6 separate regions of the Homo sapiens genome follow, and regions 1, 2, 3, 4 and 5 are each reported to be linked to region 6. Evidence: microRNA targets listed by miRTarBase, many of them from high-throughput screens and not tested one by one. Region 6 holds a microRNA gene; each other region holds the end of a gene's coding sequence.
What was found. The annotated mature microRNA hsa-miR-6133 reads UGAGGGAGGAGGUUGGGUA and lies in region 6 at 2,298-2,316, opposite strand. An mRNA with a match to its seed (bases 2 to 7 or 8) in the 3' UTR can be bound and repressed. Matches are read on the target gene's strand: a 7mer-m8 pairs with bases 2 to 8, a 7mer-A1 pairs with bases 2 to 7 and ends in A, and an 8mer does both.

Region 1: miRTarBase lists TRIM67 as a target of hsa-miR-6133. Seed matches in the 3' UTR shown: 7mer-m8 at 3,002-3,008, 7mer-m8 at 2,998-3,004, 7mer-m8 at 2,867-2,873, 7mer-m8 at 2,287-2,293, 7mer-m8 at 1,221-1,227 and 7mer-m8 at 271-277.
Region 2: the mRNA of SH3BP1 is a reported target of hsa-miR-6133. Seed matches in the 3' UTR shown: 7mer-m8 at 3,379-3,385.
Region 3: miRTarBase lists SCIMP as a target of hsa-miR-6133. Seed matches in the 3' UTR shown: 7mer-A1 at 2,479-2,485 and 8mer at 2,433-2,440.
Region 4: miRTarBase lists BICDL1 as a target of hsa-miR-6133. Seed matches in the 3' UTR shown: 7mer-m8 at 2,885-2,891, 7mer-m8 at 2,745-2,751, 7mer-m8 at 2,446-2,452, 7mer-m8 at 2,442-2,448 and 8mer at 2,437-2,444.
Region 5: the mRNA of HHIP is a reported target of hsa-miR-6133. The part of its 3' UTR that is shown has no 7-base or 8-base seed match.

The regions. Positions count from the first base shown.
Region 1 is chr1:231,215,042-231,219,145 of GRCh38, reverse strand. It overlaps TRIM67 (tripartite motif containing 67), which reads right to left. Exons shown (of 10, transcript NM_001004342.5): 10 at 1-3,771. The coding sequence ends at 3,706. Among named protein-coding and RNA genes, the nearest start is that of FSAF1, 24 kb to the left of the region's middle. RefSeq lists enhancers at 1,470-1,969, 3,661-3,770, 3,684-4,104 and a silencer at 2,501-2,560.
Region 2 is chr22:37,655,002-37,659,105 of GRCh38, reverse strand. SH3BP1 (SH3 domain binding protein 1) reads right to left here. Exons shown (of 18, transcript NM_018957.6): 18 at 2,989-3,834. The coding sequence ends at 3,422. PDXP (pyridoxal phosphatase) reads right to left here and starts at 383. Exons shown (of 2, transcript NM_020315.5): 1 at 1-383. The coding sequence starts at 323. PDXP-DT (PDXP divergent transcript) reads left to right here and starts at 729. Exons shown (of 6, transcript NR_109952.1): 1 at 729-851. RefSeq lists a silencer at 197-506 and enhancers at 7-508, 697-746, 757-826.
Region 3 is chr17:5,207,055-5,211,158 of GRCh38, forward strand. SCIMP (SLP adaptor and CSK interacting membrane protein) reads right to left here. Exons shown (of 5, transcript NM_207103.3): 5 at 1,866-3,901. The coding sequence ends at 3,747. It overlaps ZNF594-DT (ZNF594 divergent transcript), which reads left to right. Exons shown (of 6, transcript NR_152840.1): 2 at 2,696-2,841. Among named protein-coding and RNA genes, the nearest start is that of ZNF594-DT, 17 kb to the left of the region's middle. RefSeq lists a silencer at 1,375-1,554.
Region 4 is chr12:120,092,610-120,096,713 of GRCh38, reverse strand. It overlaps BICDL1 (BICD family like cargo adaptor 1), which reads right to left. Exons shown (of 10, transcript NM_001367886.1): 10 at 2,220-3,714. The coding sequence ends at 3,553. It overlaps RAB35 (RAB35, member RAS oncogene family), which reads left to right. Exons shown (of 6, transcript NM_006861.7): 6 at 1-1,615. Among named protein-coding and RNA genes, the nearest start is that of RAB35, 22 kb to the left of the region's middle. RefSeq lists enhancers at 2,630-3,273, 3,274-3,917.
Region 5 is chr4:144,737,267-144,741,370 of GRCh38, forward strand. It overlaps HHIP (hedgehog interacting protein), which reads left to right. Exons shown (of 13, transcript NM_022475.3): 13 at 498-4,104. The coding sequence ends at 691. All of the region lies in intron 1 of LOC124900791 (a long non-coding RNA gene), which reads right to left. Among named protein-coding and RNA genes, the nearest start is that of HHIP, 93 kb to the left of the region's middle.
Region 6 is chr7:133,289,267-133,293,266 of GRCh38, reverse strand. It overlaps MIR6133 (microRNA 6133), which reads right to left and starts at 2,386; the gene lies at 2,279-2,386. The region is part of intron 3 of EXOC4 (exocyst complex component 4); the gene reads right to left.

The DNA of each region.
Region 1 (4,104 bases), not on the chromosome of region 6:
TTTAGCATTCACATGTTGACTCCCCCTAAGGATTGACCCTCCCTCACTACCTCAAAGCCAGCAGGTGGCCATGGGACCAGCAGCAGCCTCCTTGACACTGAACCACCTGCCCACCGGTGCCGAAACCCGCCTTCCCAGGGGGACCAAGCCTTTCGCTTGCAATGAGAATTAAGGCTTAAATGCAAATATCCCTGGAAGAAATACACAAAGATCCTGCATTCTGATCCTTTCCTGAGAGTGCTGTGGTGGGGCGGAGGGCAGGGGCACCAAGAGGGAGAGAAAGGGCGCAAAGAGGAGGGTGGGCCTGCCCCCAGCTCTCTTGGTGAGCTCCACAGAGCCTGCCCAGGCTCAATCCGGAAAGCACCACCCTCCTCAAACTTGGTGGGCCATAGGGCACCTAGGGCGCTGTTGCAACTACAAAGTACATATCAGGCTGAAGATGCAGCCTGGAAATATATACAGTTTTATAGTGTTTAGGTCAGTTACCTTGTGGGTCAGTATTACTGGTGTCCTCTTTAATTGGAATCATTATTTTCCCAAGGAGAACAGAGAGAGGAAAAGCAGGCTTTGGGGAAATACCTTCCCCTGCTTTGAATTAGGAGCTGGGATGCTATGTATGCAGTGAGGTGCTAGTGGATATTTTCGGAAGAGATTAATTTTAAAAGGAAAAGGCATACACTTTGACCAAGCTTGCTCACTAGCAAAGAACAACTGCAGAACCACATTACAGAGGCACTATTTACAATGCAATGGAACTCGACATTTTTAAACTACTTTGAATTCCTTTTTCACTGAAACTGCTTGATAGATTTACACCAAGTTACTCCTCAGCCAGCCCAACAAAAGCCTCATCTTGATATCATTTATATGTATGTACAAATGTGCCACCATGATGTAACGTGTTATGGAATTCGATGGTGGATGAGAATTCCATGACCTGTCTGTCATTTCTACTCTGAAACCCGGGACCTTCCTGGCCATGAGGAATTGATAAGTTCCTTCTTCACTTTTCTGATCCCTCAAAAACACAAGTGTGTGGCACGGACCTGTCGTTCTCTTTGAAGTCAGAACATTGAAGGTGTTTTGTGCTGAAGACAGGAGAGGTGTCTGTGAAGGAGAGCTGGATGCTGTCCCTGGCATCGGCCGTATTGCTTCTGGGCTCCTGGAGGAGTCAGAAAAGGGAGAATCCCAGCCCCCAAGCTCAGGGTGGCAGTGGGGAGGAGGGAGTCCTGGCTGCACCTCTCTGGACTTCAGGGAACTTTTTTCTGAAAGAGGCCACCGGATTTGAGGGCATTACCCTCCTGCACTTTCCACTTCTCTCCTGACCTGGATGCTGCTCCCTCAAAGGGGTTAGGTTCAGGGTAGCCCCAGGCAACTTGTGCTCCAATGATGGGCGATTCTTCTGCAGAGCTGGGGCCACCTGGTGACCTGGGCTGTGGTGATGGTGGAGGCTCCACAGCCTTCCCCAGGGCTCCCCTGTGAGAAGCTGCTGTCACCAGGCAGCCCTGCCTAGCCCACTCTCATTCTGGGGGCAGGGTGTAGGCCTGTTTTTTTTTCAGAAGAGAGCTAGACACTTCCCAAAGCTGATGGCTTCCTTGGCCCCAGGAAAGTGGTGGCTCCTCTTCATCCTCAATCTTTAGGGATCGTCTCCATGCTCCAAGCAAAGGCCACCCAGAGCTATGGCTAAGGATGAAGCTGCAGGGATATGGGAGACAGAGGCAGAGGTGCGGGCAAGGACACAGGGTCCCAGGTCTTGTGTGTCACCACCAAGAGCTCTGGACAGGGCTCTGGGATGGGAGGAGGAGACCCAGAAACCGCTTGGTGAGATGACAAGGAAGAGGCAAGACCTAGACTTCCATGAAGCAGATAGCTCCCAGGCTCCGCAGCAGAGACTGCAACACAGCACCGAGCAGCTCCTGGAGACGGGGCAGCTGGCCTTGCCGGCCACATCTGCAGAGACAGCGGACCAAGCAGCCTTGCAGACCAAGAGCATGAGCTTTGAGGTAGGATTGTCGGGCCTGCTGAGTGGAGGGGGGGTACCTGCATGGCTCCGGCAGGCAGTTACTCAGAAAGCAGGCGCGGTGTCTGAACAGGAAGGCAGAACCAAGGACGCACAGTTGGTGCTGGTGAATGGGCGAATTTTATAAAAATCCAGTCCAGCAAATTGACAAGTCACTTCTCAGCCTCAGAAATAAAATGCTTGACAAAATATATTCTTTTTAAAAGGAGAGAGAAATGTTACTACCAGGTGGAGCTGGAGGTGGCAGGTGACTGGGAAGATGAGAGGAGGGAGGAGAGGAAGGGTTCCCTGGGAACAAGAGCCTGGCAGGCTCAAAACCCCTGCCATGAGCTGTCTCTGAGAGGTGTGGATGAATCAATGTGGATCTCAAGGGAGAAGCCTGGTGTTTCCAGAGTCCTGCCCTGGCAGGTCAGACTCGGCACACCCAGTCTCACAGTGGGAAGCTGGGAGACAAGGTACCTGATACTGCCCTTCTATTTCCTGCCTTCCCCAGAGATCCCGCCCACTGCATCAGGGCAGAGCCGTCCCGGCCTGCCACAGGGGCCACTTGTGTTCATGATGCTTTCATAATGACAATAGGGTGGACTGACTAGAACAGGCTTTCCCAGGGTCTCCCATTTTAAATGCTTATGAGTCTGAGAGTGGTTCAGCTCAGAAGAGCAATCTGGATGCATTTTCAGTTAACTTCTTGGGCTGCCAGTTTCAGAAAGGAGCCATCACCAGGCGAAGACCTATGACATAGTTGTTAAAATTCTTGTGTTTTCACGTGGATTTAAGAACTAAGAACTGAGTGAATTAATTTTAGGAGACTGTCATGCCTGTGTGTGTGTGAGAGAGAGAGAGAAGGAGGGAGGGAAAGAGAGCGAAAGAGGGAAGAAAGAGGCAGGGATGGAGGAAAGTAAGAGAGAAGGAGGAAAGGAAGAAAGAGAGAGCAAAGGAGGGAAGGAAGGAGAGAGAGAAGAAGAGAGAAAGAGAAGGAGGGAGGGAGAAGAAATGAAGGATGGAGGAAGAGAGAGAGAGAACACAATTGGCTGATTAATAAAGGAAGCCATTTTAAAAGGTTCTAACACTTCAGTGAGAGAGGCAAAAGTCAAGCATGAATGATTAATGTCCCTTTCTATCAATCCTGCATTGGGTCTGCAAGTGGCAGGTGCTACTAAAGACTCTAGGACCAAGAAGCTAAAAGATAACTTTCTCAGCATGATGAGAATCTGCAATCTCGGGACTCTGAGGAGGCAAGGTCCCCACGGAGGGCCAACACCCGGGGCGTGGGATTACAGCGCAGCTCCTGACTGCCGCTCTCAGGAGGCCAGTCTCAAAGTCTACCTTCCTCTCCCTCCAAAAAAAGACAAGCTTTGAAAACAGATGGCAGGAAACATAGACATGAAGCCCGAATGCTGACTCCCTTGAGAAAGGTCCTTCTTGGGGAGTGTTCGTAATGTCTGGGTGGAATAAGGGTGACACACGTACCTTCCTTTGCCACTGACAGTGGCAGCTGTGAGCATGGCCCGTGGACCCATTCCCTGCGTCCCCAAGAAAATGTGTTTCTATGACACTCCACGCTGCCAGGTTGCACCCATGATTTGCATATCCTGCTTTTGTGGGTTATTTGAGCTTAGTGAGAATGGTGGGCGTTTTGCCTGTGAATGTCACTGTCACAGGCACAGTGCCGAGCTGGAGCGGGGCTAATTGCCTGACAGCTTTGGCCGCCCCAGGTTAGTCGGCACTTCCAATCCTGTGTGCAGGGTGACCTGGAAAAGAAGACAGGGCAAGTGAGGGTGGGAGAGGCTGCCGCAGGGACCCTGAGGGCTCTGACAGCACCGCAGACACCGGCAGGATCCCCTGCTGGCTCCAGGGCCATCCATGCAATAGCTCAGGGCTGCTGTGGACTGTTGAATATTACGTCCCCCAGTATTCCTAATTAAAGGCTATGTTGGTTTGCACCTCTTTCCTCATAATAAGAATCACCCAGCTGACTGGTTCCTCATTTTGCCAGAGCTGCCACAGCTGGGCAAAGTAGACGCCATCACAGGAGCACGGCTCTCACGCACTGGCTCCCGTGGTTACATATTTGTGTCTACTTT
Region 2 (4,104 bases), not on the chromosome of region 6:
CCCGGCGCGTCCGGAGGCCCGGGCAGGCGCTGGCGCAGCAGGCGCGCGGCGCACAGCGCGGAGCTGAAGAGCTGCTCGGCGCGCAGCCCCCCGAAGCCGAGGCGCGCGAAGCGCAGGGCCAGCTCGGGCCGCGCGCGCCGGCTGTTGTTGCTCACAAACAGAGCCGCCTTGCCGGCCCGCGCCAGCCGCTCCAGCAGCTCCGGGGCGCCCGGCACGGCGCGCTCGCCGTTCCACAGCACCCCGTCACAGTCGAACAGGACCCCCTGCGCCCGGCCCAGCACGTCGCGCAGGGCCGCTCCGCGCAGCCTCTCGCAGCGCGCCATGCAGCCGGCCGGCCGCCGGCCTCCCGCGCCGCGCTCTCTCCGCGGGCACGGCGCGCTCTCCCTGGCACGTTCCACGCAGCCGCCAATTGGCGCGCTGGAAGGACCGGGGGGCGGGGCGACGGCGTGGCCTGCAGCCAATGGGGGCGAGAGTCTGGGAGAGGAGCGAAGCCGCGAGCTAACGGAACTTGGAGAGAGGGGCGGATTCGTGGCCAACACCGAGGGGAAGGGACCAATGAAGAGCTAGCTTGATCCTTCTCCCCGTCCCTGGTTCTGCTGGACCAGTCGCCGCCGAGTTTCAACGCCGACTACACTCTTACGCGGTGGGAGACTGACGCTCTTCTTAACCAATAAGAATCTACAAACAAAACGCGAAGCGAAAGGCCCCGTGCCCTCCAGCCAATCAGAAGCTTAGGCGAGCTGGTTGCTGGGAGAAAAACAGATGTTAAATGAACTGCCTTTGGGTCGAATCTCATTGCCCCCTGAATCGTGGACGCTCCAGTTCAGAGCGAAGTCCCAAGAAACGTGTGTGTACGATGGGGTACGAGGCACATGGTGTCTTCTTGGGTGCTGGAGCCCTCGGTCTAGACCAGTAGTTCTTCACACTGCGTTAGAGTCCCCTGGGAACTTATTTTCAGATATCATTTACATATAGTAAAATGCATAGATCTTAAATGTACAGTTCAATGTCTTGACAAATGCTTTTGAAATCACCGATGTGTAGCAGGACAGATCCTCATGTAAGTGTTTTGGGTGAAGACTGGGCATTTTTTGGTTTGTTGGTTAGTTGGTTTAATTCCAGGGATTCTACCGTGAGCTAGGATAGGGTAGGGAAGCACTGGGCTAGAGGCTGGTAGGCTGTCACTGCAGCACGCCCCGGGAGGGCAGGATCCAGAATGGTCGTGGCCAATTGCCCAGAATAGTAATGGGGTGACCCAGGTTGGCTGGGTCCCTGTCTTAGGGAGGAGGCCTTGTGATCTGGAAGCAACCACAGGTCTTGGGACCTTTGAGGAGCCACTGGTCTGCAGTGTGGGGATGAATGAATTGTGAGCTGTGGTGTCACAGTTTTGAAGTTGTCTGCCAACTTCAGATAAGGCTGTGACCCCCAGGAGCAACTGGAGCTCCAACGACTTGGGAAAAACTGTACCTTGTACCCAACCTTGGAAGCTCAACTAGCTCCTATTCCCCAAGTGCCCTAAGCCTTTTGCTCCTGGCCTTTGCATAGATAGTCTCCTTGGCCTGAATGTTCCTTTTTCCTTTAAAAATTTCACCTTCAGGGCCGGGCTCGGTGGCTCACGCCTGTAATCCCAGCACTTTGGGAGGCTGAGGTGGGCGGATCACGAGGTCAGGAGATCGAGACCATCCTGGCTACGGTGAAACCCCGTCTCTACTAAAAATACAAAAAAAAAAAAAAAAAAAAAGAAAAAAATTAGCTAGGCGTGGTGGCGGGTGCCTGTAGTCCCAGCTACTCGGGAGGCTGAGGCAGGAGAATTGCTTGAACCCAGGAGGCGGAGCTTGCAGCGACCTGAGATCGTGCCAATGCACTCCAGCCTGGGCAACAGAGCGAGACTCCATCTCAAAAAAAAATAAACAAAAAATAAAAAATAAATAAAATAAATAAAAATAAACAAAATTCACCTTCAGGTCAGCTCCTGAAAGACTTCCCTTAAATATCACCTTCTCCAGGAAGCCGTTCTTAACCACCCACCCCATACCATGAGTCTAGGTTATATGGCCACCCCTAACTTGGCTAATATGGGCTCCCAGTGCAATGACACTTGATTTTTTTTGTTTTTGAGACAGGGTCTTACACCGTCACCCAGGCTGGAGTGCAGTGGCATGATCACTGCTCACTGAAGCCTCCAACTCCTGGGCTCAAGCGATCCTCCTGCCTCAGCCTTCCTAGTTGCTGAGACTACAGGCACACGCCACTACACCCAGTTAATTAAAATTTTTTTTTTTGTAGAGACAGGGTCTCACTATGTTGTCCAGGCTGGTCTAGAACTCCTGGGCTCAAGTGATCCTCCTGCCTCAGGCTCCCAGTGCTGGGATTATAGGCATGAGACACCGTGCCTGGCCAGACACTTGATTCTAATGGTTGCTTCTGCCTGTCTGTTTGGGAACTCTTTGGGTGTAGGGTTAAGTCTTGGAGCTAGCTCAGGGCCTGGCACAGAGCAGATTTAGGGAAGGTTTGAGGACAGATCCATCCCTGCTCCTTGGGGAGGCTTCCCAGCCTCCTCCCGGAAGGAGAGTGAGGGGTCCAGGAAACAGTGGGAGCGGTAGGGGCTTCTGTGGGCCAAGGGTGGTGCTTTGGTTTTCAATGGAGAGCAATACCTCTGTGGAGGGAATTGTTATAAAGTTTCACAAATGAGGAAAAGGGATACCAAGAAGTTAAGTAAATTGCCCAGAATGTGAGGGACAAGCCAGGCTTTGGAGTCAGACCTAGGCTCTAATCCCAGGCCCCTGCCTGACTGCCGTGTGACCTTGGCAGGTCACTTCTGTCTGGGCCTCAGTCTCCTCACTGCTAAGAGGTAATGGTATTTCCTGCAGTAGGAGAAGATTAAGTGGAAATCATCCACAGAACAGCACAGCATGTAGTGCAGAGAAAGCTCTAAAAATGTCTGCTGTGATCTCACTTCAGACAGGAAGAAAGGAGGCAAAGAATATGTATTGTTTTCCCCTTTATAAAATTGGCTTCTTTATTTCAAGGACAGAAAATAAAACTATCATTTGGGCAGCTGCTCCAGTTTTGTCCAAAATAATTTATTTACCAGCCTTACAAAAAACATGTCGGCAAGAGAAGAATCAGTCCCGTAGGAGCAGGCAAACCTCTCCTTCCTTCCGGTGGCTCCCCTAGGACCTGCCGGAGAGTGGAGAGTCCGGTGGGGGGGTCCCCAAGCCCAGGGTGGACGAGGAAAAGGTCAGGAAATAGAGGATTGTCCTGAGCCCTCCTGGCCATGGGGGCCGACCCAGTGGGCACTGAGGCACTTGTGGGCAAAGGCTGGAGGCCCATGCCCCTTTGTGGGGGGCGAGAGCTGTCCTGGGAGGGCCAGGTGGGGAGGGAGGGGGTGCTGAGGGCTGCTTAGGGAGAAACCAGCCACTCAGTTGGTCTCTGAGGCAAGGCTCCTGGGGCGGGGCTGAGGGGGGATAGCTGGGGGAGTGGGGACCCCACTGATAGCCTCAGGGGCTCCTCCCTCTGCTGTGGCAGCCCCCAGGTCCACCTGTGCAGGGTTACTCAAAGAGACTGGGCTGGGGGAGGCTGGACCTGGGGAGGCCGGGCTGGGGGAGGCTGGTGAACGCCGGCTTTGGCGCCGGGCAGGCTGAGGGGGTGTGGGGGGTAACGGGGGTGGCACTGTGGGGGCTCGGAGGCTGCTGCCAACCAGACGTCGGGGCAGGGCTTGGGGGGTCCCAGGGCTGCCAGAGCCAGGGGGCAAGGGCGGGGCTGGAGGGGAGGAGCGGGAGCCGGAGACCTGGGGGGGCGGCATGGTGGGCCGGGCTGGCGCCGGGCGCTTGGCTGTTGAGGAAGGAAAGGGTGAGGGAGGCTGAGTGTCCACGTGGCCTGTGGTGAATCCACCAAGCTCCGTGCCCCCTCACAACCTTTGCATCTGCTGTTCCCTCTGCCGGGAACACCGTTTCTGCGGCTGGCTCCTCATCGTCTAGGCCTCTCCTTGTGCCCTTTGCCCCCTTGGAGGCCCTCCCCGAGCACCCTAGTTAGAGTCCCACCCCATGCCCCACCCCAGCTGCTCCGTCACATTTTCCAGATGTATTTTCTTCGCAGGACTTT
Region 3 (4,104 bases), not on the chromosome of region 6:
AAAGTAACCAGGTAATTATAATTATAATATATAATAATTATAATACAAAGGGAGAAGTATTTCCATAGGGCCAAGTATGGGAGCTGTGAGAGCTCAGAGTTCATTGATTCATTCATTCAACCCAGTTGATTATTCAACATATTTATTGAGCATCTACAATGTACCTGGGCACTGTGCTAGGAACAGGGAAAACAGTAGAGGAAAGAAGGACACATTCCCTGCCCTCATGTTGCTTTGGGTCTAGTGGAGGAGAGAGACAGATAAGCAATAATTATAACATGCTAATGCTATGAAAGGAGAGCATCCAGGAGGCACCAACCCAAGTTGGGTCATGAGGAAAGGGTAGCCAAGATGAAATGGGAAGGATCCAAAGGTGGGGAAGAATGTTTCATACAGAGGAATAGCGCTGTGCACAGGGCAAGAGGGACCATAGTGAAGGTCATTTTATTTTATTATTATTATTTTTTTTTTGAGATGGAGTCTTGCTCTGTCACCCAGGCTAGAGTGCAGTGGTGCAACCTAGGCTCACTGCAACCTCTGCCTCCCAGGTTCAGGTGATTCTCCTGCCTCAGCCTCCCGAGTAGCTGGGATTACAGGCATGTGCCACCACACCCGGCTGCGTTTTGTATTTTTAGTAGAGACGGGGTTTCACCATCTTGGCTAGGCTGGTCTCAAACTCCTGACCTCATGATTCACCCACCTCGGCCTCCCAAAGTGCTGGGATTACAGGTGTGAGCCACTGCGCCCGGCCTGTGAAGGTCATTTTAAGTGGCTGGAGCAAAAAACTTGGGCAGAGTGGAGGTTGCAAGGGGGTTGGGGGAGAAGAGTTTGGCAAAAGATAATCAGTGACCAGATCCTGACAAATCTTGTAAGCCATGTTAAAGAGTTTGGTCTTTTTCTGGGGTTAACGGGCAAAGAGAAGATTTAAGCAAAGGAATGAAGTGGTCAGATGTTCACTTTAGGAAGTCACTGGGTGCCATGTAGAAAGTGGACGGCAGGTGAGGTGCCAGAGGCAGGGGAGCAGTCAGGGGGCTGTTGATATTCTCCTGGCAAGCGCTGGCAATTGTCTGACCTCAGAACAGTGACGGAGAGACGTGGACTCATTGGAGAACCACGTGGGAGGCACAAGTAACATGGGGAGCTCTGGAAACAAAGCAGTGTGGGGAGAAGGATACTAGTTTCTGACTTCAGCAACTAAGAAGATAGTAGAGCACAAGACATTTGGGACTGGAGGTAGGTCATCAGTTCCTTTTGGTGTTTGCTGAACTTGAGGGGGTGTGTGGGGCAGTCACAACGAGATGTCTTAGAGGCAACCCAGCTGGGGAGAAAGAGCTCAGCTGAAGTCAGAATAGAGGGGGCAGCTGGGCGTGGTGGCTCACACTTGTAATCCCAGCACTTTGGGAGGCTGAGGCAAGCGGATCACTTGAGGTCAGGAGTTCAAGACCAGCCTGGCCAGCATGGTGAAACCCCGTCTCTACTAAAAACAAACAGAAAATTAGCCGGGTGCAGGCGTGTTGGCACACACCTGTAATCCCAGCTACTCAGGAGGCTGAGGCAGGAGAATCGCTTGAACTTGGGAGGGGGAGGTTGCAGTGAGCTGAGATTGTGCCACTACACTCCAGCGTGAGTGACAGAATGAGACTCAGTCTCAAAAAAAAAAAAAAGGAGGGGCCCACTGAGCTCATGGACATTGGTGAGATCACTCGTGAGTGTTGGAGGCAGATGGGCAGAGACACAGGGACAGAACCTGAGGAAGACCAGCATTGAAGAGATGCTTCAGAAAGAGTGGGTGGCCCCAAAATGAGACGGAGACAGGAGGAGAACCAGGAGAGGGTGGCGTCCCAGAAACCAAGGAAGAATCAACATTTGTCTGGCATTTGTTTTTAACTTTTGTCATAGTCATGGAGGGTTTACAGAACATTTATAAGACGAAAGCATGTGTTTGAAACACTCCAATCCTTTGGCTTATTTTTGTTCTATAATTTGGGAAGAGTCCTCTCTTTGGCTGGTGGGATACCAGAGTCCCATAAGGCCATAGTTAGATAACTACTGGCCTAACATAAGGAGGGTTTATTTATTTATTTATTTATTTATTTTTAGATGGAGTTTCACTCTTGTTGTCCAGGCTGGAGTGCAATGGCATGTTCTCGGCTCACCGCAACCTCCGCCTCCCAGTTTCAAGCGATTCTTCTGCCTCAGCCTCCCAAGTAGCTGGGATTACAGGCATGCGCGACCATGCCTGACTAATTTTGTATTTTTAGTAGAAATGGGGTTTCTCCATGTTGGTCAGGCTGGTCTCGAACTCCCGACCTCAGGTGATCCGCCCACCTTGGCCTCCCAAGGAGGTATTAATAGCAAGGTGGAAGCCTTCATAGAGTCTGGAAAGAGAGAACCAGGGAGGAAGCCCAGGTCCCCAGTGCTCCAGCGTTGATTGAGGGAGAAAGCTTGAAAATGGGAGGAACACATTTTCCCATCTCTTGAGGGAAATCTGAGTCACTCTCAGGCCTTTCCAGGTTCACAGTGCTCTCTCTGCAAGGCTGTTCATTTGCCAGATTTCCCAGAGGTCACTTAGAAACCAGCATCTTGTGAGTATAGTTAGAATGAGTCAAGTCCTAGGGCTCTGGCGATCAGCTAGAAGGAATTGATGAGGTCTAAGAGCCTATAAAGCTGACTCGGGCCTTGTTGACCCCATTAGGACACTTGTTTAACAAGACATCTGCCCATGTCCCTGGCCCATCTCATTGGCTGCAGCACATCACAGTGGACCTTCTGCCTCCTCCCAGATGCCCAGGGACAGTGATCTGGAAGGAAGGGGCTTGAGGCTGTTTTCCTAGAACTCGAGTAAGTACTGATGAAAATGATGGACAGGGGATATTAAGCCCCCTGAACTCTCATCTTGTATATGCCATTGTTACATGCCCCTTTTCTTTCCTGTTCCCCATGATTTGTCCTGGGGGAAATGTATTTTTCCTGTAGCACCCCCAACACACCTATTGCAAAATGATGCTTCTAGGTGTAAATCAGAAGGTAACTTTTGTCCTTTGTCCATTGTTACAGTACAACTTGCAAGCACGGGGAGAAAACCTAGGTGAAAACTCAAATCTCTATGGTCAATTTGGCCTACATCATATAAAGGCACTGGGGTTTGCAGGGTGTCTAGGTGGGGAGGGTTCACGAGAACAAAAGGTACTCCCTGCCCTTGCAAACTCGCGAGATGTGGTGTGGGAACCTGGGCACGAGAGCACTCAGCTGTAACTCACCCACAGCCTCACAGTGCAGGAGGTGGGTGGGGTGAGAGGGTAAAGACCAGCATGCTTGGTGAGGGCCTTGCTGGGGATGGGAGCCTGGGAGGGTCTGCACAACCAAATGCTGAGATTTAATATCACTCAGAACCATGCAAACCAAAGGGAATGAAGGGGGAAAGAATGCCAAGAAATGAGTAGTTTCCCACAGGTGGGAGCCATGGAGCCCCGTGGTCCTTCCCATGGAAAGTTTCCTCAACAGCACAAGGCTGACCCCTCTAAGTCCTCAGAGCCGAGCACCCATGTGTCTCCTCTGGCTGCAGTCATCCGATCGCAGGGGTGTCTTCATCTAAGGTTTGGGAAGTGCTTTATCTTATAGAGCTTCATAAAATCACCACTGGCTTTCAGGGCCCAGAGACCTACTGAAGTTCAACCATTCTTGATTGTTTTAAAATAAGTTGTGTGAACCCTCTTCAGTTTTGCCAAAAAGAAGAAATGGCTGTTTCAAAATGATGCTTTTTCAGTATTTGCAGGGATTTCAACATCGTCATAGTCATCTTCAGGCTCAATGTAGCTTGGGATGGAAACAGTCTTCTTATTTTTAACTTTATTTACCAGTGAGTATGTAGCGGGCGGCTGACTTGGGGCTTCCTGTGGGGCTAGAATACACAAAAAGCTCCTTAGATGCAAAGCTGTCATGTGTTTTTATATTTTTGAAGGCAGTGGCTCAGCGTGATTTTCACGTTTCAGTGATCTTCCCACTTCTAGTGGGCCAGATCCCCATTTTACAGAGGAAATTTAGACACAGACCTGACAGAGCCTCAGGATCACCCAAGTGAGTAACTGGAAAATATTAGTCAGA
Region 4 (4,104 bases), not on the chromosome of region 6:
CTTGCCCCTTCTCCGGGGCCTGTGCCAGCTCCCTTCCCTCCCCGTTGTCCTGTCCCCACAGCCATTCTGGGAGCTGGGGAACCTGGTCTCAAGGCAGGCCCTGCAGTTCCACAGAGGTGGCAGGTCTTGCCCTTTGGCCAACAGATTTCTTGTCCTGCCTTCTAGATGCCTCTGAGCTCCAAACCCAGGGCAGCCATGGCTTCTCATTTACACCAACAGGTTTCAGTTCCAACAGAAAGGTCGGGGTAGGTTCGTGCAGAGATGGGGCTGGCAGGGGGGCTATGGGAGGATTATTTTAACAGATCAAGAAAATGAAGCCAAATCAAGTGAATTAAATTCCTCACAATTATTTTCTTTCCCTGAGGTTTGATTGGCACAGCAGCAAAAGTTGAGGCCACCCCACTTGTGTCCACTGTTTTTAGAAAAAAATGAATGGCTTCCTGCCATTGTGGGGCTGGACTCTTGGGCTTTCTTGGTGGGAGCGGAGAAGGGGCCTCCCACCCTTGTCCGAGTTGCCTCCCACTGGAGGTCAGGAGTCTACACTGCAGCCTCGGGCACTGTGGGGAGTGCATGCCTGGGGCCTCTGGGTGGGGACCATGGACAGGCCCTGGTCACTGTCCTAACCTTTGTCAGGACAAAGGTAGCAAGAGGATTTCCTGGCGGGTGGGAAGGAATGGCTGGGGCGGCCAGTTTTGACACGCCCCAGTGCCCTGGAGAACAACCAGGGTCATCTGCACTTGATGACTGCTCCCCGACCCCCAGCCCGGACACCTCATTCCCCTCCCACTACAGGGATCAAGTGACCTGGGAAGAACCGAGTTTAACACCAGGATGTGTTTCCTTAGATTTCCTTTCCTAGGCGATTTCCAGGGAGAGCCCTGATTGGACAATCACATCACAGATCACACTGCAGTTTCCATGTTAGCACTGTGGATGGGTTTTTAATCAATAAAAACTGGGGGTTTCTTCTCACCGACTCTCCACTTGCCCAAACTGCCAAAAGCTGGTGATTCTGGGACAGGCCTTCACTTTGGAGCCACGGGATGGGGTGGGGGAGCCCCATGGGCCTGGGAAGGAGGGTGCTGTGGAGGGGGCTGCAGGGCTGACCAGCAGGCAGCCTCATCTGGTCGGGGGCGGGGGCGGCAGGAGCAGAAGCGGGGTCTCCGTCCTTGGGACTGTCCTGGTTGGCCACGGGCCCTGAGGATGCACGGTGCCTGGGGCTCCTGTGCCGGTGGGCGGGGGGCATGCTGGCCTCTGAGCGATCAGGCGAGGCCAGCGAGGGTGTGCTTGCAAATTCAAGCAATAAGAGGGGGGTTCCTGGGGGCTTCCAGCCCAGGCTAGAAGCCCCCATGGCTTCTGGCAGCTGGACATCAGCCCCAGGTATTGGGGTGATTTTGGTCATGACAGTGTGCCTGTCCCACTGTTACACGCATGAATGGGGGTTATGGGGTGGGGGTGGGGACTCAGGGCTGGACCGACGTCCTAGTGGACCTGATGTGAAATTCCTGTCAAACAAACACCACTTTTCAATGGTTTGCTAGGAGTATTTCTGTATTGAAAGTTTCTAATTATGCTTTTTAAAAAAATACTAAAAATAAAGGTTCAAGCTGCCAAATTTTCTTCCAGGGTCTGTTTGCTCTCCCTCCAGAGATGTGCTGAGTGGCCGTGGCTTCTTCCCACCCACCGTGTCCTGCTCTTCCCTGTTCTTGGCCTAAGTCTTGCACAGGAGCCTGTCGAGGCCCTTGGGACACTTCCAGAAGCCAGGTCCATTTTCTCCATGAACAGGTGGGCCAGGGTTGAGTCTCCCCCTAGTTGGACTGGGAGCACATGTGGTAAGATGCCAGGGGAAGCTCCGTGTTTATCCTCCACATGCCTGGAAGGATGCAGTGGAAGCCTTTGCCTGGCGTGGTTTCTTTCTGGCTTGAAGTTTCTGCCAAGCTTTAGGGCCCTGCTGGCCTGGGAAGCAGCGTTGGCAGGCCTGCCTTGCGGATGGCACGCTGCAGCACTGGCAGGGGGCAGTGCCAGGCGGGAGGGGCAGGGGAGGATGCCCTTCCTGGCCAAATCCCTTGGTTAAGTAAGTACCAGCATCTGAGGTGGCCCGGGTGCAGGGGAACCACTATTGCTACCTCTCCAGCAGCAGCCAGTGGTGAGTCTGACATGTCAGCTGCATTCAGACCAAACCCGCCCCCCGCAAATACCCAGAGACTGAGGCAGGAAGCTCTGTAGAAATTCATTTTATTCTTATTCAGACTATTTTCAAAAGAAGCAGTGGTGTGCTGTTTTTCTAAAAATATGCCTTTATAGATTTTTATATATGTATATTATAAAATCCATACATGTATTTACATGATTGCTACATACAAAATTACAGCACTGTGGTATGTACACATCTACAGGTACATTCTTGCCGCGCATCCCTGCTGTGCTTTCCCCACGTGAGGGAGGGAGGGAGACTGAATCGGTTGTGAGCAGCTGAGGGCTGGCCGGGCCGCGGAGCCTCTGAGTTGGGGCCTGGGTGGAGGAGGAGGGGCGGCTGCAGAGGCAGGAGCAGCAGCCACTGCAGGCTTCTGCAGGCAGGCAGGCAGCATCTGGAGGCTTCCGGCAGCCTCCCCCTCCCCTCCACCCCGTGGTGCCTGTGCTGCCCTCAAGGTGGGGTGGCTGACCACAGACCCCTCTGGTGCCATTCAGTGGCCTGGACTTGTTTGGCTAGGCCAAGAAATTATGTATGTATGTGAGGGGTGGAGGAGGGAGCTGTGGGAGGAGGAGACCCCGTCCAACCCCAGCCCTGAGCAGGGGAAAGGGCTGGATGGCTAAAGCCTGCAGATGACTGGTGATAACACTCTGCCTGGCCAGGCCCTGCTAAGGGGCAGAGACTGAAGGCTGGGAGGGAGAGCAGTGGCGACAGGGGGACAGGGCCTTCTTCCTCCCTGGGGCTCGGGTGGCCTCAGCTGAGCTTGGGTAAGCCCCGGCTCTTAGACCCTGCGGCCAGAGGCTTGGCCTCCTGCCAGCTGAGGTGCATGCATGCGGGGGAGGGGCTGCCATCTCTCCTTTGACCCTGGGCCAGGGGCTGGGGAAGGAATGGAGGCTCAGGCCTGGCCCGCTGCCCCCACAGGTCTAGGCCCCTGGGGCTCAGGCCTCCTGAGGCATGCAGAGAAGGGCCTCCATTCCTTCTGTTCCCCATTTGCTAAAATCAAGGAGGCAGCAGTGCCTGGGGGTGGGCTGCGATCTGTTGGGTGTGAGCTGCAAAGCCCAACACCAAGGGGCCCCTCTGGGAGGTGGCCTAACCCTGCTCAAGCACGTGGTCCTGGAGAAGCCCAGGCGTGGGCTTGGCCAGGCGGTGGGCCAAGGGAAGCCTTCAGTGGCCAAGGCAGGCCCCCACCTCTAGGTCTCCATCCCCACCGACGAAAGGGAGCAGGCCCTCCCGGACCCATGGGGCCCTAGCATGAGGGGCAGGGCAGCTGCTGAGGTGCAAGCTGCAGGGGAGGCCTTGCCTGCACCGCCTTTCCAGCTGCCTCCAGTCCACCCATCTTTGGTGGCCTGACTCCTCCCAACTTAAATTTTCCTGAAGAATGAGAAGAGTCGTTTGCCTTCAGCGATGCTGGGCTCATCCCCCCGCCCAGCGCTGTGGCCCCTGCAGAGGGCAGCAGCCGGCTGGCTCCGTTCTTTCAGGTGCGTGTCCATCAGCTGCCGGTCAATGACCCTGTGCATGTCATCCTGCAGAGGGGAGGGGACAGTGGCCAGGACTGAGTAGCTGCTCTCACCTAACCCTGGGGCTGGACAGGGAGGTGGGAACATCAGACAGATGAGAGATGAGAATGTGATGAGTGAGAGGCTGCAGCCGGGACTGCCCTGACCAAGAAAGCGGTGAGCGTGGGCAAGACACCAGGCGCACGCAGGAGCCGTATGGCACCTCCAGCCTCCTCAGGCTTGGGCTGGGTTCTCCTCAACAGTGTTACTCCTGCTGGGCCGCCACAGTCCTCAGCTGATGGCTCGGGTGGTCTCTCCCTGCAGTCTCCACACTAGCACTCCACCTGCTCTGACCAGGCCTCACGGCTCTGCCTCCTGTGTCCTGTGGGCCTGGCTGGTGCCTCCGGTTTGGCTTGC
Region 5 (4,104 bases), not on the chromosome of region 6:
GGAGTTTATATGGTGGATATTCCACCCAACCAAAATCCAAAACTGACTGTTCCTTTCTGTTGCACTGGAGTTGCTTGAGCCTCTGTGTCTCCCCCTCAGGCTGGGCCACTCCCATGTTGAGATCCTACCTTGAAGGAATGGGAACATAGAGCTTGGGAGGCCCTCTGTAGAGAATGCTCCTGTGAAGCAGAGATTTCAAAGGACTAAAATCTTCATTTTAAATAGAGTTAATTTTGCAAAGGGTTGCAATTGTTTCTCATGATCTCTGCTTCTCTAGAAATGTCTCTCATTCTCTGCTGAGTTCAGGTCTCCAAATAACTATGGGTGTAAAAGCCTGTTTCCTACTTGCATATTTATCTTTCAGATCATTTTGTAACTATCTCCCTCCTTTTTTCCCTCGCTTCCCTTATTCAGCAAATATTTGTTGGTCTCATGCTCAGTCCTGTTTCTGACATACAGAATGAGAGTGTGATGTTCTTGCTCTTTTTCTCTCCCAGCAAAATGTGAGCCAGCATGTCGTCATGGAGGTGTCTGTGTTAGACCGAACAAGTGCCTCTGTAAAAAAGGATATCTTGGTCCTCAATGTGAACAAGTGGACAGAAACATCCGCAGAGTGACCAGGGCAGGTATTCTTGATCAGATCATTGACATGACATCTTACTTGCTGGATCTAACAAGTTACATTGTATAGTTTCTGGGACTGTTTGAATATTCTATTCCAATGGGCATTTATTTTTTATCCTGTCATTAAAAAAAAAAGACTGTTATCCTGCTACACACTCCTGTGATTTCATTCTCTTTTATTAATTTAAAAATAATTTCCAGAAATGTGCAGATCCTCTGTGTGTATGTCAGCATGTTTGTTCACATATGCACATACACATACTCATAACCCCTATATGCGTTGTTGCATAACAGATGATTTTTTAAAATATATACTTCCTTATGCAAAGTAATTTACACAGAAATTCCATTGTAAATTGATAATGGATTTTTTATGTTACTAGAAGAGATTATTTGACTTCCCAGGAATTTTCTGTCTGTAATCACTAAAGTCAACTTTAATAGAGTTTTGAAACAGTACTGTGCAATCCGATGGATCTAATTAAAAAAAAGGCAATATTTTTATATTAAAGTACTATACTAGGAGAGAATGTTTCAGAACTCCCTGATGAATTTCTAAGTGAGCAACTTGATATAAAATTGTAATCTTCATTTTTGTCAGTGTATCCAGTTACAGAATGCTACACACTTACCTTTTTATTGGCTGAGAAATCTGGTTATTTCATCTTAATCTCAAGATTGTTTTCAAGTGTTTTATAATTAAATCATAATAGCATATTTTAAAATCAATCTTCCTAAAAGGTCTGCTTTTATTGTATATTTTATTTAACAATAGGCACTGGGTTTGTGTTACATATTTATATATTTTATTTTATTTTTATAATATAGACATCACCTAGATGAAACACCTTTACCCTGTCCTGTAAAACACTAAAGTTACATTTTTCACCAACTTAATTGGAAAGAAGGGGAGTGAGAAAGCAAACAGTCTTTAATGTGCTGTGGATCTAATCTAGCAAGGTATCCTTGTGCCAACATGTAATCATTAACGACGGATGAAAAAGCAAGAAAACAGCCAATCCTTATAAAATTCCAGCATTAAACATTTGTAAAGTGCTTTTCACCATAGCAAGACTGTCAGAGTCTATGTTATTAGAATGTTGCAGATTTCCACTGAATCGAACCTCACTGGAGAAGAGCTCACTTGTTTTTAAAAATCTTGGCTATGTAAGCTGTCACCTGTACAAATTTTTAACATAATAATTCTTGCCAAATATGACTTTAAATGTACGTGTTCCTTCAGAACTCAATGAAAATACTCTTTGGCTAATGTATCAATAAATTTTCTGTAAATGTTCTGTTCAGGGTTTTACAGAGATGACATGTTCTGACTTAAAACTGCAAAAAGTCTAGTAGATATTTTTCTTCATGGTTTTCAAAGCCAGCTCTCCACGTTTGGATTTTAACAAAATATAAGGCCTCTTTGCACTAGTGAAAAAACACGTCTACTCATGACAAGTGCACACCCACTATGGCTGTCCTTCTTCTGTAAACATCCATTCCTCTAGAATCTAAATTGTAGAGCAGTATAGATTATGCAGCGCCAGCTGACTTTCTAAACCTTCTCCTTACCTTTAGGAATACAAGCCTCAATTTAAAAAATATATTGTAGCTAGTATTTCTCTATTGTTTTAAGGTGAGAGATTTGCAATTAAAGCCCAGTAAGCATTTATATAGAAGCCACAATGTAGAAAGATTGGTTAAGTACACTGCTCTTGTCTTCCATATATGATTACTTAAGTTTCAAGTGACCTCATGCCAAATGGAAATGGGTTGAGAAATCTTGGTTCAGTGCTTAGTGAACAATAGCCTGCATTAAAAAGTGCATGCATAATTTTGCACAATTTAGATTCAATTGACAGTCTATTCAAAGAAGTCTCAGGATTAAATGAGCATGGAGACCAAATTGCCCTCTTACCCCAGAAAAGGGGTGGTCCCTTCTAGTCACACTAACACTTCATTGGCCCAACAGTGTGACAAATCTTGCAATGAACCATGCAGTAGCCTGCATCTGTAGGTTAATAGCAATCTTTTGTCTCCATTGCTTTCTCTTCATAGCCCTTTTACTGAATTCCATCACAGAAAGTTTTACAATTAAAAAAAAATGTCCTGACAACCATTTTTGTAAATGGACCTTACCATCTAATTGTCCCTTATTCAACGTGGGTGACATTAACAAAATGTGAACTTCTTGTGAGGGAGCCAGCTGTCTAAATCTGTCAAATCGTGCAGTTTTATTACACATTCTCCAATTCTTCCTAGTTTCCCTGAAAACAATAAGGATACTGCTATATATTCAGTAAAATCTAAAAAAATCAAGCATTACTTCTTACATCTTTAAACTTTCCATCTCCTCCCCAAAATAAAAGGTGTTCTATTGCCATTAGTTCTACTGTTTTAAAATATCTATATTAAGTTGACCAGGCCCAGATTTTTTATACAGCTTTTTCCCAAGTGAAAGATTTTCAAGTGACTTAGAAAAACATATGTGCCCCAGGTGTCATTGCCTTTTCTTTTGTGAGTCATTAGAATGAAAGGCCAAGTTCTTCTCAAGAGAAGATAGCAAGATCCACGGATATTAAGCCAAGCAAAGAAAGTAAAATCATTGGAGTCATTTCTTTCTGTTCTTAGGAGAAAAGTAGATAGCACTGGCTAATTGATGGCAACATATTTTAAATTAAGTGGTCAATTCAAAAATTCTCTTTGACCTTTTCTTTCAAGTAGATTTTTTTAAATGCATGACTGGAGAATTATCTTCAATGATTCATGATGAGAGGCAGGTAGGAATTGGTTAAGAAGTATGAGCAGGAAAAAATTATTGTTTAATCACATGAAAGGCAACATCTGTTCAGTTCATAAAGCACACAGTCTCGAATGGAAGAAAAAAAGGTCCTTCGTAAGAATACTGATGCATAAGATAAAGACGAAATAATGAAAAAGAAAAATGTATATTATTATTCCCTTGTCCATTCTCAAGTTTAAGCTGCGGTTGTCAGTTGAATGTGAAATGATGTTATAGTTGTTTTAAATGGTTGGAAATAACCTTTCTACTACTGTTTCTGCCACACTGTTGTCCTGGTTCATAGAACCTTGTTTTCTTGACAGTTATTTAAGGTAATAAAAGGAACACAATTTGGCAGATCTTTAAGTGAAAGAGAGAAAAAATTTAAGAAATTGAGTGATGGCTAAAAGTAAGTGCTTCCATCCATAACTTTTCTTCTTGGATTTTTTTCAATGTAATTATTGTAAAATATATTTTTTTATTTTATCATGAAGAATACTCGGAAGGTTTCTCAGATTAATGAGTATCTCATAAAGAGTAGAGAAACCAACACATACAATATATACACACAACCTAAATAGAAAACTATTTTCTTTGTCATTTGCATGCCCCAGAGAAGTTACTTCTTCCCTATTTATTTCTTTGAAAATAATTACAAAATAGTATACTAACAATTTTAATCCATTTGCTGTTTTTTT
Region 6 (4,000 bases):
ATACAAAAGACCAAGTTGAAGATATCTCCAACCTTTTAAGTGCACTTTAAATCCTACCTCCACGAAATTTTTGCATATTGGGATATACAAATCATTGTTTATTGGGATATGCCAACTCCTCAGAACATGCAAAGTTATAAAATGGTAATATCAGAAGTGGAGTTGTTGAAAGAAATAAGCTAACAAATGTAACATATTTCAAATAGTACCAGGACATAGTAAGTGCTCAATACATATTAGCTATTGTTATCATTGTCATTCATTTAATTACTACGAAAAGGGAAGGTTAGACACTAGAGAACCTTGCCATTAAGAAATAAATAAACAAATAAATAACCAGAGAAGAAAAAACAGAACAAAGCTCCCACAAAAGAAATACCTTTTTCTCTCTGTAGTGGTATTACAGTCTTCCACATAGTCACCCATTTAGCTAATGATTTGTGAACTCTGACTGTATGAGCTACACTATGCTGGGAACAGGGCAGACAAAAATAGGTAAGACACAACCACTATCCTCAATGACCTACCACACAAACAAAAGGAATTATATTAAAATGAAACATATGAGCTTATGGAAACATAAAGAAAAGCACCTAGCTATCTGAATATCTGGGACATTCAGAGAGTTGATGAAATTTGAGCCAGGTCTTAAAAAAGAAGTCATCACTTTCCAGGCAGACAGTATTGGGAATCAGTTCAGGGAAATACAAGGTCAATTAAAAAAGAAAAATACATCACATCCTTATGCACCAGCAACCAGTAACTAGAAACCTTAATAAATAAATAGCTACTGTTTTAAAAGACAACAACAAAAAAATGAAATACCCAGAAATAAATCTAACAAAATACATATGATACCTCTAAGGACTATATATATTGCTAAGCATTATCAAAGGACACAAATGAAGATTTTAATAAATGAAAGGAATATTAGGTTCACAGATAAGAACACAACATTGCAAAGATAATTCTCTTAAATTCAATCAATTAGCTATTGAAGGTTCAAGTGATTCTCCAGCCTCAGCCTCTGAGCTAGCTGGGATTACAGGCATGCACCACCACACCCATCTAATTTTGTATTTTTAGTAGAGATGGAGTTTCACCATGTTGGCCAGGATGGTGTCAATCTCCTGACCTCACGTGATCTGCCCACCTCAGCCTCCCAAAGTGCTGGGATTACAGGCGTGGGCCACCATGCCTGGCCACAAAGACAATTTTGAATAGCAAGATGAGAGAATCTCTTCACCTCCTATCAAGATGTATTATAAAGTTACAGGAGTTAAAACAGCATGGTTTGGGTGCAGGTACAAATAACACCATTAAAACAAAATAAAGAGCTCAGAAACAGATCCATGCATATGTGATAAGTTGCTGTGTGACCAAAATAGCATCATGAATCAGTAGAAAAAGGATTCAATAAACAGCCTGAGCCAACAGACTATATAGAAGAAAGATAAAATTAGATCCTCAGTTAATACCATATATAAAAATGGACTTTCGACGGGTTAAAGAAGAAAACATAGGAGATTCTCTTAGAACACTGGGATGGAAAAAAAATTTTCTTGCATCAAAAATCACATAACAGGCCGGGCAGAGTAGCTCACGGCTGTAATCCCAGCACTTTGGGAGGCCAAGGCAGGCAGATCACTTGAGGTCAGGAATTCCAGACCAGCCTGACCCAACATGGTGAAAACCCATCTCTACTAAAAATGCAAAAATTAGCCAGGTGTGGTGGCACACACCTGTAATCCCAGGTACTTGGGAGGCTGAGGCAGGAGACTCACTTGAACCTAGGAGGCAAAGGTTGTGGTGAGCTGAGATCACACCACTGCACTCCAGCCTGGAAAACAGAGTGAGCCTGTCTCAAAAAAAAAAAAAAAAAATCACATAACAAAAAATACTGAGAAATTGAGAAATTGTTTTGCATTACGATTTTTAATTTCTTTATAACAAAGACACTATAAACAAAGGAAAAAGACAAATCCCCAATTGGGAGAAGATATCTAACAGACAAGAAGAATTAATATCTAGAATATATAAACAACCAAACAGAAAACGAAACAAAACCTCCGGAAAATGTGTCTTACAAACTCACTCTTTTCTGGACATGACTGTTCTTCCTCCCTATACCACGCCCCCTGCCCCAACCAGATAGTTTTATTGATGATTATCATACCCAACCTGGCTCAATCTAGCTCCTAACCCTAGATTTCTGAATTATGAAAAAAAAAAAGATTATTTTCTTCTGTAAAGGTGGAAAGATGTAGACATAGCCTATGCCCCCTGTTTTCCCTCAATACCCAACCTCCTCCCTCACACATGAAGAGACCAGTCTTCAGCAGAACAATGAAGAGGGCATGCAGAGAAAACACACAGGTGACATTCCACATACATGCCTATTCCTTTGGCAGACTGGTTACATGAGTCAAACAATTATTTTTACTTAAGCTAGCTAGAGTTGAATTTCTGTAACTTACAACCAAGAATTTAAAGAAGTTATTTAATGAGTCTTGAGGAAAATATGTCAGAAAAAAAGGGACAGTATTCATTATTGATTAGCCCTTAAGTAAATAAATTAGCCCTTAAGAACAAAGACCGTAACACAAAAATCTGAAATCCTAATATGAACATAATTAACACAGAAATAAATTCTAACAACCTATTTTAATCTGTGGCACTTACTTAAAAGCAAGCCCACTCCAAAAAATCATGATTCAAATAGATGTATATTTGCTACACAAATGTATACTTGCTTATCTATTCTGATTGCTGAATCTTGAGAATATAGGACAAGTATGCATTCATAATGCATAAATCAACACTAAAGGTGAAAAGTAATTTTTTTCTATCAGACACCCTATAGTCATTATTATTAAAGAAGCTGCCACTTTGAATAAGATGCTGAAAATAACCAATTCTTTTGTCATTCCCAAGAGTCAATCTTTTTTTGTTGTTTATTGGGGTTCTTTTTGAGACAGAGTCTTGCTCTATCGCCCAGGCTGGAGTACAGTGACCTGATCATGACTCACTGCAGCCTTAAACTCCCAGCCAAGGGCCAACCATTATTAATCTCCTTCCACTGTGGAAATTGACCATTCAGTCTTATCACATAACCAGGTTTTAATATCTGATAGAATATCATGGCACTTCTCACTCCTTGGTTACCAAATTTCCTTTAAAAAGCTTCTTATGAAGGACTTTTAGCAAAATTCTTCTTGGAAGTCTGAATGAATTAGAACCACTTAGAGCATTTAATCTGTGTCCCTACCAATTCCCCTCAGTGTTTTTTCCAGTGTTAAAGCCAATCTAATTTGGTGAAACAAAGGTAAAGGACTTTCACCTACTGTGGGGAAGGAAAAAACAACAATTCAAATACAGCCCATCTGCTGCTCAGAGCTCCTATAGAGAGCTTCCTTAACCAACTCTGAATGAGATGGAAGTGGGACTGGGTGGGTAAAAGGGAAGGGAGAAAGAGCAGCCCTCTCTAAGAGCCACAGGCCTTGGGAAAGAGGATTATTAGGGAGCAAACTCTGTATTTCTACTTTTTATTCATCTTCTTGACGCTCAGCCACATGAACCACCAATTGCATCCTTCTGGGAACTTTCAGCAATTCAAAAAGGAGCACACACAATGGACTAAGATGGAGGCTAAAGGCTAGATTGTGGAGTACTCTTGGTCAATAAAGTTGCTTCCAGTATTAGTCTCCCAAAATTTTATTTCTTATCAATTTCAAGGAAAAGAACAAAGCCCTAATGTAAAAATTCCTTCAAAAAATGTGTGGAACACTAGTCTATAAATCTTCAGAAGTTCTGTCTCATGTAGATTTCATTGTTTAAAATGGGATTCATTAACTATCTTCCTCTGAAGCTAAAAAACACCTCTCATTACCATTCTAACCTGATTTAAGTACTGGTTTCTTACTATTATATTTCTTGCCATTGTTACAAAGACAGATAATACATAAATAATAATTACCTACCATTTCAAACACTGGAATTA